4 linked regions of the Homo sapiens genome follow. The protein of the gene in region 2 purifies or fractionates together with the protein of the main gene of each other region. This does not show direct contact. Each region holds a gene or a part of one and is shown on either strand. Other genes may lie near its edges.

Region 1 (3,500 bases), on a different chromosome or scaffold from region 2:
TAATCATTTTCTTTTCATAGTAGAGGATAAGGGGCAAGAAGCAACAATCCTAGGAAATAAGGAATGTTGTGTGTTTTTAGCTGTAAGTTTCTACAGATTTGTTTGGGCAGGGGTGCACAAAATAACATCTGGACCAATTTGAAAATAATAAAAAGGAGGCCCACCTTTTACCAACTAGCGAGGAGCAAGACACTGAGCCTGCCTGGGTACAGGGTCCACATTTCCTAAAAGAAAAGAAACAGACCCTTGACATGCCCCTTCTCTTGGACTCAGGTAAAAACTTAATAGGCTTGTGCTCTGAGAGCTTTCTTATACTGTATTTATTATTCAATCAGAGGAAATACTCTAAACCTGTGTTCATAAAGCAGCAGTGGGACTTAACTGATTTGTTTTGTGTTAAGTTGGCTGTCATATAACAACAGTCCCTCTGACAGCTGTCAAGCTTGAGCCTTAATACTTTAGAAACAGGAATCCATGCTGTTTCATTCTTTTATCTAACTTATTAAAATAGTAAACTAGAGTAGCACGATCTAATAGAACTTTCTGCAGTGCTGTCCAATACAGTAGGCTAGCCTATAGCCATATGTAACTACCTGACACTTGAAGTGTGGCTAGTGTGACTGAAAAGCTGAATTTTTAATTTAAATGGAATTTAACTTTGGCCATGTGTGGCTAGTAGCCACCATATTAGATAGTACTATTCCAGAGTATAATTATTATGCATGTTTATACAGTGTTAGAGCATTCATAATCTTTAAAGAGGATATTCCACTGAAGTATTAAAGTGTCCCAGTGTTTCAGCATTTACTTCACCTGGTATTATATGCAGATGAACTTGCCTCAGTGTATTTAAGAGATATTACTGGCCGGGCGCGGTGGCTCATGCTTGTAATCCCAGCACTTTGGGAGGCTGAGGCGGGTGGATCACAAGGTCAGGAGTTCAAGACCAGCCTGGCCAAGATGGTGAAAACCCGTCTCTACTAAAAATACAAAAATTAGCTGGGCGCGGTGACAGGCACCTGTAATCCCAGCTACTCGGAAGGCTGAGGCAGAAGAATCACTGGAACCCAGGTGGCAGAGGCTGCAGTGAGCCAAGATTGCACCACTGCACTCCAGCCTAGGCAACAGAGTGAGACTCCATCTCAAAAAAAAAAAAAAAAAAAAAAAAAAAGGACAAATTACTATTTCTGCCATCACTACTTACATACTAATTGAAACCTACAGCAGAGAAAAAGGAATAAAAAGATGTATAAGCAAGAATGTAGTGGTTGTAGGTATTTAGATAAGTTTCACTTCTGGGCAAGTTTCTTGTGATGACGTTGCTGCTGTGCTAATAACTGGATAGGTAACATGGAATACAAAATGCAGCTGGCAAAATACACTGTCACAATTCACAAGTTAAAGGAGTAGGTGCCACCAAACAGATGGAAGTTGGCAGTACCCCAACACATCTCACTGCTGTATACTTAAGATTCAAGCCCTCCAGCACTGAGCCTGGCACATGAAGTGTTAAAAAATATTTACCAATGAATGAATGATATTTTGGTGCCTCCACATCTAAGTTGTGATACAATTAATGGGAGTAAATAATCCAAGAATACTTTTTTGTTTGTGTAAACTCGAGTAAACAGTTTGCAAGCAACATGCCACAATATACTCCTGTAATTTCCAGTTACCTACCAGGGCTGTTGATTATGGCAATCAAGGGCCCCACTAGCATTGTGAGCAGTAAGGATTGTAGATGATGTAGCTTTGCTTTGGTCTCGGTGTGCTGCAACCAGTAGCAACTGACAGCAATGGGCAACTTCAGTGAAGTAGGGATTGGCTCCAGAATGGTCTGTTTCACCTTCAGGGTTTCTAACAGAAGCATCTGCCGCCTCCTCAAGGAGAGCTGAAAATACACACCAAGTATCCTGCAAGTTACTTTGGGAAATGTCTGTTATTTCTTTTTTCCACCATAGCATGAAGAGATTTAATGCTACTGAAACTTCTGTCAGCTGTTAAACTTATCTTCTTGTGGGAAAAAAAATCAGCCACACTCACAGCATTTAGAACATTAATAAGATGCTTTATAAATATGGTTGGTTGAATGGGTGTACTGCCTACTCCTACACCTTTACTTATGTCATTCCATCCTCTTTGTATACGCTGGTGAGCATCTTCAGTGCACGTCACCTGGGAAGCTCATTAAAAATTCAATCCTTAGGCCCTACTCCATAAATTTTGATTGACTAATCTGAGAGAGAGCCCAGGAGGAATATACATTTTAACTAGCAGCCCAAGTATTCTACTTTGAGAAACAAAGCTGTATACTCAACACCACCTGTATGTGCCTGTGCAACAGGCATTTGCCTTCAGCATGATGCCATTACTAATTGCCTCCAGAAGACAAACGTTGCTTTTAGGAACCCTATGTGGCATATACTCTATTTGTTTGGGTCCTGTCTCATGTCCCTTCCCTGTTGAATGCTTTATTGTCTTTGCATAAAAGACACACAGGGATTGTCCCAGGGTGGCTGCTTGTAGATTAGAGGTATATTCAAGGGAGATAGGAATATTTTAAGGACTACTTGCATTGTGCTTGGAGTAACACGCCATACTTTTACTTCATGGTTTAGCGTGTACTTCAAATAAAAGCTCAGAAGTAAAACAGCTATAAGAGCACTGAGGTTCTTGTTGAAATAATTTTACCTTAATGAATTACCAAGACCTTGTAAGAACCAGAATGGGGACCTTACAGGTCATGCACTCAGGAATATTAAAAGGTCATCTTCTGGGGGACTTTATAATCAAACTTTAAGAAAAAGAAAAGTTGTATTCCTAGTGTCTGCACACAGCCAGAAAAAGATTTTCTGCTTTCTGGAAAGTTGAGATGGTAATAACATTTCTCAGCATGTAACATCTAGTTAGTAGAAAGAGTGGTTGACAGCTGAGACTAAAGATATTAACCTGAAACAAAACACATCATAAATGACAAAATAGTTTTATCATTAATGCATGAAAACTTTAAATAGTACGATTATTTCTAAATACTGCTTTTAATAATATTGTGATACAAATTTTAAAATTAGAAATATGCAAAGAACTTTATAGTATAACCAATTACCCCTACTGGAAGTAGTTTTAACTACTTAAATTTTAAGTAAAGTGGAAACTAAACTCTTAAACTGGTTTTTAAAATGCACTAAGTAGAGCTAAGAAAATACACCAACTCTTTTCTGATATATATTTAAATTACTGAATTATAGAGCCAAGTTACAACTTTTCATAAACAAAGCAGTCTGGGCTTTGACTTCAGAGATGTTCCGCTCTGCACTAACCCTATGGCTTTGGTCGAAAGGTTTCTGACCTTTTCTACAGTCTGTCTGACTTATCTGTAAAATGGTCATTATAATGACTTGTATAAGATGTTTCATCAAACCCACCAGTCCACAGTCCCTTCCAAAAGGGGAAGTACTCAACTCACAGCCCTTAACGTTAGTTAGGTTTTATCCCATGTG
Region 2 (3,500 bases):
TACTCAACCATCTTAGGGCATCAGATTGGACTTTCAGGTATGCAGTAGCCACTCTCCACTCAGGCTCCTTAGGCAACCACTGTTACAAAAAGAGGATGCACCGTGTATGTTTTTACTGACTATATTGTACTAGATTGTAGTCTTGCGCGTGTCTTTTTTTTGTTGAGTTTGAACTACATGAACCATTTCTGTTCCATCGTTACATGGTAAAGTACCTGGCTAGAAGTAGTTTCTCAAAAGCCTGTAGGAATGAGAAACTGTGAGAAAACTGTTAAGGCCTGTCTAATATTTACAAACATGTAATTTTAATTCAGGCTTGTCCTGTTGGAGTTTTCATTACTTACTACACATCTTCTATTGCTATTAGTTTACATATTTTTTAATGGCCATTGTTAGTCTGGCACTGTGCTAAGCTGCTGGGAAGAACTAGAAAATGACTAAGATGGCTGGGTGCAGTAGCTCATGCATGTAATCCCAGCACTTTGGGAGGCCGAGGTGGGTGGATTGCCTGAGCTCGGGAGTTTGAGACCAGCGTGGGCAACATGGTGAAACCCCATCACTACTAAAATACAAAAAATTGGCCGGGCGCGGTGGCTCACGCCTGTAATCCGAGCACTTTGGGAGGCCAAGGTGGGCAGATCACAAGGTCAAGAGTTTGAGACCAGCCTGGCCAATATGGCAAAACCCCGTCTCTACTAAAAATACAAAAATTAGCCGGGCGTGGTGGCAGGCACCTGTAGTCCCAGCTACTCGGGTGGCTGAGGCAGGAGAATAGCTTGAACCCAGGAGGCAGAGGTTGCAGTGAGCTGAGATTCATGCCACTGTGCTCCAGCCTGGGCGACAGAGGGAGACTCTCTCTCCAAAAAAAAAAAAAAAGAAGTCAGCTGGGCATGCAGGCATGGTGGTGCGCACTTGTAGTCCCAGCTACTCAGGAGGCTGAGGCAGGAGAATTGTTTGAACCCAAGACGTGGAGGTTGCGGTGAGCCGAGATTGCACCACTGCACTCCAGCCTGGGCGACAGAGCGAGACTCCATCTCAAAAAAAGAAAAGAAAAGACAATGCCTAAGATGGGCCCGTGCGCAGTGGCTCACGCCTGTAATCCCAGCACTTTGGGAGGCCGAGGTGGGTGGATCACTTGAGGTCAGGAGTTCAAGACCAGTCTGGCCAACATGGTGAAACCCCATCTCTACTAAAAATGCAAAAAAATTAGCCAGGCGTGGTGGCAGGCGCCCGTGATCCCAGCCACTCTGGAGGCTGAGGTGGGAGAATCACTTGAACCCTGGAGGCGGAGGCTGCAGTGAGCCAAGATCATGCCACTGCACTCCAGTCTAGGCAACAGAGTGAGACTTCACCTCAAAAAAAAAAAAGGCCTAACATTTGGTCTCTTCCTTTTGGAATTTTGGGGTTATGGAAGAGACAAAGATAAACGTGAGTTAATGTTTATCAAGCACTTACAATAGTTCCTGCCACAAAGGAAATGCTACGTAAGTGCTTGATAAGGGATATGAAAAAATACATACTTATAAAATGTGGAGCACTGCCCTTTGACCAGTACTAAACCCATGACAGACTGTAAGTGTTGCAGGAGAAGGGCTAGAAGGCAGTGGAAGCTGGAATAATCAGGAAAGGCTTCATATGGGACACCTGGGCCTTGGAAGAATAACCTTTTGTTCTTTGGTTACCAAAAGGCTTTTTAAAAATTGCTTAGGCTAGATGCAGTGGCTCATGCCTGTAATCCCAGCACATTGAGAGGCTGAGGCAGGAAGATTGCTTGAGCTCAGGTGTTGAAGCCCAGCCTGGGCACATAGCAAACACCTGTCTTTATGAAAAAATTAAAAAAATTAACCAGGTGTTGTGGCGTGCACCTGTAGTCCCAGCTACTTGTGAGGCTGAGGTGGGAGGATTGCTTGAACCTGGGAGGTCGAGGCTACAGTGAGCTAAGATTGTACCACTGTACTCCAGCCTGGGCAATAGAGTGAGACCCTGTCTCAAAAAAAAAAAAAAAAAAAAACAAGAAACAAATAAAAAGTCCTTCAAGGAATTTAAGTGCCCACCAGCCTCCTATTGGCTGTTAGAGGTGAGAATATTCCCATAATAATCAAGGTATGGGTGACTTCTGGGTTTTCCATGTAGCAAGTGGACCTGTTGCTTATGGCATGGCATAAGGACACCTTCGGGATTTTTTGTTGTTATTTTGAGATGGAGTCTCACTCTGTCGCCCAGGTTGGAGTGCAGTGGCACAATCTTGGCTCACTGCAACCTCTGTCTCCCGGGTTCAAGCGACTGTTCTGCCTCAGACTCCCGCGTAGCTGGGATTATAGGTTCGTGACACCATGCCCAGCTAATTTTGTATTTTTAGTGGAGACAGGATTTTACCATGTTGGCCAGGCTGGTCTTGAACTTCTGACTTCAAATGATCCGCCCGCCTCAGCCTCCCAAAGTGCTGGGATTACAGGCATGAGCCACCACGCTTGGCTATTTTTTAATTTTAATTTTATTTTAATATTTTAATTTTTTATTTTAATTTAATTTTTATTTAAAATTTTATTTTAATTTTGAGACTGGGTCTTGATCTGTCGCCAGGCTAGAGTGCAGTGGTGTGATCATAGCTCACTGCAGCCTCAAACTCCTGGGCTCAAGTGATCCTCCCTAGTACCTGGGACCACAGGTGTGCACCAGTACACCTGGCTGATTTTTAAAACTTTTTTGTAGAGACAGAATCTTGCTGTCATGTTCAGGCTGGTCGTGAATTCCCGGCCTCAAGCAATCCTCCTGCCTCAGCCTTCTAAAGTCAAAGTGCTGGGACTACAGATGTGAACCACTGTGCCTGGCAATACGTTGGTTTTAGTTTAAGCTTCATCACTTGCCTTTCTTAACTCTGAAACCCTCTGACCTCTGTTTGTTCATATGTAAAAGGGGAACAGCTGCACTTCTTCAGTCATGTTCATGGGAGAGTAGTAAATTTTAAGTGAAATAATACATATAAAAGATGTTTGAAAATGGCTAGACAGCTGTGCAGAAATGCTGGGGATAATTCACCCAGCCCGAGCTTTTCATCTCTGATCTGCCCGAGGTCTGGTTTGGCATCTCCAGGCCATGTACTGGAAAGTGGCCACTTCCTTCGCTGCTTCGTGGCTCTGAGTTGAGTAGGACTCATGGTCAGGGTCAGGACTGCTCTTCTTCCTCAGATCCCACAAAGGCAGGTGCCTGGGCTGATAGATGATTCCTGTGTGGGTTTGATTTCAGGATTTATTTGTATCCCAGAGAATGACAAGTACGTGGTTCTTGACTTTATAAAAAAATGATTTCTCTTTCATAGGCAGGGAAGCCCACGAGGAGATAAACATCACCTTCACCCTGCCTACAGCGTGGAGCTCAGATGACTGCGCCCTCCACGGTCACTGTGAGCAGGTGGTATTCACAGCCTGCATGACCCTCACGGCCAGCCCTGGGGTGTTCCCCGTCACTGTGTAAGTGTACCCGGCACCTGATGAACGTGC
Region 3 (3,500 bases), 6.6 Mb from region 2:
ATTTTACCTGTATATGAAATTCTAGGTTCAAAATTATTTTCTTTCAGCACTTTGAAGCTATTACTGAATTGTACATCCAGTGTCGCTGTTAAGAAATGTGATGTTATTCCCATGCTTGAGTCTTTGTAGGTGATCTACTTGGCTTCCTGGAAACTTTAGCATTTCTTCTATATTTGATCTCCTAGGAATTCCCTCAAAATATCCTGTAATATTTCTTTTCCTTTTTTTTTGAGACTGTCTCACTCCATAGCTCATGCTGGAGTACAGTGGTGCAATGATGGTTCACTGTAGCCTCAAATTCCTGAGCTCAAGAAATAGTTATGTCTCCACCTCCCAAGTAACGGGGACTACAGGCACGTGCCACCACGCCTGGCAAACTTTTAAATTATTTGTAGAGACAGGGTCTTGCTGTATTTCCCAGGCTGGTCTCAAACTCCTGGGCTCAAGCGATCCTTCTGTCTTGGCCTCCCAAAGTGCTGGGATCACAGGTGTGAGCCACTGCACCCACGCAGCTGCTTGCTTGCTTGCTTTTTTTTTTGAGATGGAGTTTTGCTCTTGTTGCCCAGGCTGGAGTGCAATGGCACAATCTCAGCTCACCGCAACCTCCACCTACCAGGTTCAAGTGATTCTTCTGCCTCAGCCTCGCGAGTAGCGCTTGCCTCACCATGCCCAGCTACTTTTGTATTTTTAGTAGAGATGGGGTTTCTCCGTGTTGTCAGGCTGGTCTTGAACTCCTGACCTTAGGTGATCCGCCCGCCTTGGCCTCCCAAAGTGCTGGGATTACAGGCGTGAGCCACCACGCCTGGCCAACTGCTTTATTTCTTAACTTTTCTCTCATTCATTTCATTTCTTGTCTTTCCTGGTGCATTCTGAGTTTCTCAACGCAGTTTTTGCTCATTAATCTTTTATTTAGCTGTATGTATTTCAATTAACCTCATTCACTTAATTTTTATTTGAGCAATTGTATTTTTCATAACAAATTGCCTCAATTGGTTCTTCCTCAAAACGACTTTTTTTTTTTTTGAGACAGAGTCTCGCTGTGTCACCCAGGCTGGAGTGCAGTGGCATGATCTCATCTCACTGCAGCCTCCACTTTGCAGGTTCAAATGATTCTACTGCCTCAGCCTCCTGAGTAGCTGGGATTACAGGCATGTGCCACCATGCCCAGCTAATTTTTTTCTATTTTTAGTAGAGACAGGTTTCACCATATTGGCTAGGCTGGTCTCGAACTCCTGACCTCAAGTGATCTGCCTACCTTGGCCTCCCAAAAAGTGCTGTGATTACAGGCTGTGAGTCACTGCCCCTGGCTAAAACAACTTTTCAATATTATCCTTATCTTTCTGAGCAAATCCATGTTTAATTTCAGTTATTCTGCTCCTTCTGGTACAGACTGTTCTGTTTATCAGGGTGCCTGTGTTCCTCCAATCTCTGGTGAGTTTTATGCGTGCACTCACCTTTTATTCCCTTGGGACTCTCAATTGCATTGGCTGGTAATGTGTAACTACGAGGAGGACGGAAGCCTGATCCGTAGTTTTTCTTTCTTTTTTTTTTTTTTTTTTGAGATGGAGTCTCGCTCTGTCACCCAGGCTCGAGTGCAGTGGCACGATCTTGGCTCACTGCAAGCTCTGCCTCCTGGGTTCACGCCATTCTCCTGCCTCAGCCTCCCAAGTAGCTGGGACTACAGGCACCCGCCACCACGCTCAGCTAATTTTTTTGTATTTTTAGTGGAGGCGGGTGAAAACCGTGTTAGCCAGGATGGTCTCAATCTCCTGACCTCGTGATCGGCCCACCTCGGCCTCCCACAGTGCTGGGATTACAGGCGTGAGCCACCGCGCCCGGCCAGTTTTCCTTTCTGTAAATGAATTTAGGAGGTTGAGGTTAGCCTCAGGGTTCAGCCTCTCCCTTTTGCTCTCTGCTGTCCTCTCTGGCTCCAGGGAACCTCCTAGCACCAACTGTATGGACTCTGCCTTTATCTGAGAGCAGCCATCCCAAGAAGTTCTAGGATGCCAAACTCATGGAGTTGATGGGGCGTGGTTCTGGAGCAACTGTTTATTCCCCCATCCAGCCTGGCTCTGGCCATTACCCACAGGGGTCAAAGGTCAAGCAGTTAAATCTCTTGGGCATTGTGTATAGACAGGAGTAGATGCTGCTAGAAAACCCCCTTTCCTTGGCCGAGTGCGATGGCTCACGCCTGTAATCCCAGCACTTTGGGAGGCTGAGGCGGGCGGATTGAGACCATCCTGGAGCCAGGAGATCGAGACCATCCTGGCTAACATGGTGAAACCCCATCTCTACTAAAAAATACAAAAAATTAGCTGGGCATGGTAGTGGGCGCCTGTAGTCCCAGCTACTCGGGAGGCTGAGGCAAGAGAATGGCGTGAACCTGGGAGGTGGAGCTTGCAGTGAGCCGAGATTGTGCCATGGCACTCCAGCCTGGGTGACAGAGCAAGACTCTGTCTCAAAAAACAAACAAAAAATTGAGTTATTAACAAAAATTACGTTACTAATATAATGCATCTACCGGAAATGTATAAAAAGTGTGAACTGGTAAATTTGAGGCTACTCAGATTTAAACTTTTGGCTTTTGGGATGCTCTCATTTTCATATGCTTGGATTTACTCTGGGCTTTTTTTTTTTTGAGTTAGGGTCTAACTGTGTTGCCCAGGTTGGAGTGCACAGTCATAGCTCACTGCAGCCTCAAACTTTCAGGCTCAAGCGATCCTCCCACCTCAGCCTTCTCAGTAGCTGGGACCACCAGCCTATGCCACCATACATGGCTCATTTTTTATTTTTTTGTAGAGATGGGGTCTTACTATGTTGCCCAGGCTGGTCTCAAACTCCTGGGCTCAAGGGATCCTCCCACCTCCGCCTCCTCAAGTGCTGGGATTACAGGCATGAGCCACTGTGCCTGGCCCTTGGGCTTTCTTGTTGCAAGCTGGTGCTTACCTGCCCACTGTGGTTGCCCTGCACTTATAACCTACATCTTTCTTGAAACAAATGTTATAGGTAAAAATAAACATGGGGTGATCATTTTGTTTTTTGGGTTTTTTTGTTTGTTTCTTTTTGAGATGGAGTTTCGCTCTTTCGCCCAGGCTGTTATGAAGTGGCAGAATCTTGGCTCACTGCAACTTCCACCCCCCAGGTTCAAGCGATTCTCCTGTCTCAGCCTCCAGAGTAGCTGGGATTACAGGCACATGCCACCATGCCAGGCTCATTTTTGTATTTTTATTTATTTATTTATTTATTTATTTTATTTTTTGTTTTATTTTATGTTTTTTTAGATGGAGTCTCGCACTGTAGCCCAGGCTGGAGTGCAGTAGTGCCATCTTGGTTCACTGCAACCTCCACCTCAAGCAATTCTCCTGCCTCAGCCTCCCAAGTAGCTGGGATTACAGGCACATGCCACCACACTCGGCTGATTTTTGTATTTTTAGTAGAGATAGGGTTTCACAATGTTGGCCAGGCTGATCTTGAACTCCTGACCTCAGGTGATCCATGCG
Region 4 (3,500 bases), on a different chromosome or scaffold from region 2:
GATGTGGAGAACACTGCCCTCTAGGCTGTTTCAGCACTTTGAGACTCAGTGTTCACATATATAGTGAAGAGGTTGGTTTGTAGGTTCTCTAAGCTTTGTTACTCTTCCAGGATTCTATGATTTCTATTTACTTATTCTTCTTAGAGGTGTGTGCTTATACTCCACATGAATTTCAAATGTACAGAAGCCTGTACCATTTCAAAGATATACTGACCATCCTTGTGCTAGACACAGATATTAATTTTATTCAGTGACAAATGATACATATATTTGCATTGATATTTGCTTGGTGGGTTATTTATATGTGCATTTTTATAGTATATGAAAAATGGTAGCGTTTTGCCACCTCATAGAAGCTATCTGCTAATATTATTTATAATTTTTCAGTATTGTGTCCCTGTAGCAATCCATAGAGAGCAAATATTAAGTTAGTTGAGAAATGTAGATAAACTTTTCTATTTGGGATGTAAATAATGGTTTTCTTATTGATGCAGATTAATCACATCTAGACTTTTCTGTATGATCATATAGGAGAATGTATGTTAAGGTTAGCCTTTGTTTTCCAGCTTTTCTTTATTTTTGAATAAGAATAGGGTTTTGCAGTCATTTATGGGAAATTAATATGAACTATGGCAACACTTTTAAATTACATCTATATGCCATATATTACATCAATCTGATAATTTTATAATACTTGTGAAAAGGTGTTTTAAAATGAGAATGTTTTTCTCATCTTTACCCTTTAACTATTCTTAAATGAAAGTGGCACACATGATATTAGGGGAGATAAATATAGTAAAGATAATGTATGTGCATAGTGCAGATGTAGAATCTCATAGAGGTTTATACATGTTGCTAAAGTGCTCTTTTTCAGTAATGGGCTTATTATCATAGCCATATGTAGTCTATTTCAGAATTTAAATTATATATAAGTAACCTGAAATGTGTTTTTGAAGCTATGCAGTAATACCATGTTTGAATTGGCTTTGTTTGAATAACCTTTGATGCTACGCAACATGTGGACCATAAAAAAAAAGGATTTCTTAGAACATTAAGCAAAAATATTGTAAAAAAAAAAAGTAATGATTATATAAAAAGAGCAGTTCTGGCCATCTCATCCCTGAGCAGCTTGTATAAAATAGCATGTTTGACGATAAAAATATAGATATGTAAGCACATTGTATAAGTTGGGATACATACATAGCAATGAAGGGAGCTGATGTATGTGGGATGTGTGTGTGCCTAGTAATATCTGCTGAAATAGTTCCGGCAGTCTACAGGAGGTACATTTACTTCCCATGTGCAATTTGGTTTTCGAAGAGTATTAGAAAAAAAGATTATCATCTTATTTACTATTTCTCCTTTTTCTCCTTTTTTTCCTCCTTCTCCTCTCCTTCTCTTTCTTCTTCTCATTCATCGTCTCTTTCCTTTTCTTATTCTCCTCCTCTTTTTTTCTTTTTTGGATCTAATGAAAGGAATTAGAGAAACACTTGAAGAGTGAAGAAGATAGGTGAGGGTGTTTCTTGAATGATAATTTAGAAAATCTGCATTTAAAGGAAAAATGTGAATAATATTTTACCTTTAGGTATATCCAACTGGGATTTTGACTTTCTCACTTTTACCCCACAATACTATATATAGCTTTATGCAAAATGTTTTGCACGGATCCTATCATTTTCCAGTTTACACAAGTAAAAGTCGTCATATCTGAGTTCAAGCAAACAGTGGAGATTTATAGAGTGCCATTTTACAGATTTATTTCTAAAGAAAAGTATTGCTGTATTTCTTAAAGGTTCTCCAGGTATAGATCTATCAACCTAAATCAATACATTGGCATAGATATTGCTTTTCTCCTTCTTCTCTTCTTTTTTTTTCCATGTGTGCCTTTATTAGCTGAGCCACTACTTGAGGGTTTAAGGTCTTTGTGAGGGGCTTGGAACACCCAATGTTGGGGGAGGGAGGCGGGCGGTAGGGAAAGTATCTGAAAGGACTTCCTGAGCCAGCTGTAGGCTTTTCTTCTTCTTGTAAAAGAATTACTATATAAAGAATGAAGGAATGATTATAAACTCTTTTTAAAAATAAATACCTATCAACTCTACTGTTTTAGTAGTGTGTTATACAATGATAGAAGCATATAGCATCTAGGGTAGCATGCTTACCCAGAATACTTGACTCAACACAGTGTTGGAGTAACGGAGGCCTCAATCCTTAGTGTTTTCTCCTCCATTTGCAGCCAATCCTTAGGCTCTTTCATCTAATCACATGAGGTTTAAATACATGTTTGGATTGATAATTCTAAAATTGCCCTAATCATTGCATGGAGGGATATAAGATCCATCAGCACAGAACTTGGCTGTTGTATATACTGTTGATCTCCAGTGCTTGCATCAGTGCTTGACATACTCACCTGACTACTTGACGTCTTTGCTTCATGTCCAATGAGAATGTACAAAACTCAAGCCTAAGACAGAATCTTCTCTTTCTAGCCATTCCCATCACAGTAAATGGCTTCCACCATTCATAGGCTTTTTCATGACCCCCAATGAGGAACCATTTTTCACTTGTTCTCACAACTTGTATTCAACTTGTTCTCAGAATTGTGCAACCATCACTACAATCTAACTTTAAAATGTTCTTAATTACCCAAGAAAGAAACTATGTAGCTTGTTCCACCATCCCTCCACCAACCACAAGAAATCACCACTCTACTTCTGCCTCTGTGGATTTGTCTTTTCTGGACATTTTATATATAAATGCAATCATACAATATATGATGTCATTTTGTGACTAGCTTCTTTTCTTTAGCGTAATGTTTTTAAGGGTCATCCGTGTCATAGCATATGCATCAGTACATCATTCTTTTTTATTGCCAAACAATATTCCTTATCATCTATCCTTTGGTTTACTAGTTGATGAACATTTAAGTTATTTCCATTTTTGGCTATTATAGATATTGCTGCTTTGAACATCCACGTACTAACTTTTGTGTGAACATATGTCTTCATTTAACCTGGGATGGAAATGCTGGGTTGTATGTTTAGTCTGTGTTTCACATTTTGAGGAACTGCAAGACTATTTTCCAAAGCAGCTGTGCTACTTTACATTGCCATTAGCAATATATGAAGTAGATATTTTCTTTTAATTGATCATGGAAAGAAAGAGTCGAAGGGCCTTATGAGTTGGGTATGATGTTTTGAAGTGAAACAATTTTATATTATACTAATCTGTCTCAAATCCCCAATAGTCCTGATTTCTAATCCCTTCAGTGGTTGTTGTCTTCTAAGTCTTCCTCAGTTGCCTCGTAAAACTTTACAAAGATAGTACCTCAGTTGAACTTGTCACTTTTAGCAGAGATCTCAGCAATAGTAAATATAAATCATAGAATGATAGCATCTCGGAGCCATTATGAATATTTGCAGCTATATTGCACAACTCTCTTATTGGTTGGGCACATGGAGAACTGAAGCTTAGAGATTTTATGTGCCTTGTCACAGATCCCA

What was found.
Region 1: the proteins of TMEM248 (region 2) and ASTE1 purify together in Homo sapiens (affinity purification with mass spectrometry; one large-scale study listed by BioGRID and IntAct). This does not show direct contact.
Region 3: the proteins of TMEM248 (region 2) and BCL7B purify together in Homo sapiens (affinity purification with mass spectrometry; one large-scale study listed by BioGRID and IntAct). This does not show direct contact.
Region 4: the proteins of TMEM248 (region 2) and ROBO2 purify together in Homo sapiens (affinity purification with mass spectrometry; one large-scale study listed by BioGRID and IntAct). This does not show direct contact.

Annotation. Positions count from the first base shown.
Region 1 is NC_000003.12:131,016,826-131,020,325, forward strand, and holds part of ASTE1 (single-strand DNA endonuclease ASTE1), read right to left. Parts: intron 1,892-3,500; coding exon 1,681-1,891; intron 225-1,680; coding exon of another isoform or gene 175-224; exon of another isoform or gene 165-174; intron 1-164. UniProt on the Homo sapiens protein: Structure-specific DNA endonuclease that specifically cleaves single-stranded DNA and 3' overhang DNA.
Region 2 is NC_000007.14:66,945,225-66,948,724, forward strand, and holds part of TMEM248 (transmembrane protein 248), read left to right. Parts: coding exon 1-37; intron 38-3,319; coding exon 3,320-3,470; intron 3,471-3,500.
Region 3 is NC_000007.14:73,544,191-73,547,690, reverse strand, and holds part of BCL7B (B-cell CLL/lymphoma 7 protein family member B), read left to right. Parts: intron 1-3,500. UniProt on the Homo sapiens protein: Positive regulator of apoptosis. Plays a role in the Wnt signaling pathway, negatively regulating the expression of Wnt signaling components CTNNB1 and HMGA1.
Region 4 is NC_000003.12:77,043,099-77,046,598, forward strand, and holds part of ROBO2 (roundabout homolog 2 isoform 23 precursor), read left to right. Parts: intron 1-3,500. UniProt on the Homo sapiens protein: Receptor for SLIT2, and probably SLIT1, which are thought to act as molecular guidance cue in cellular migration, including axonal navigation at the ventral midline of the neural tube and projection of axons to different regions during neuronal development.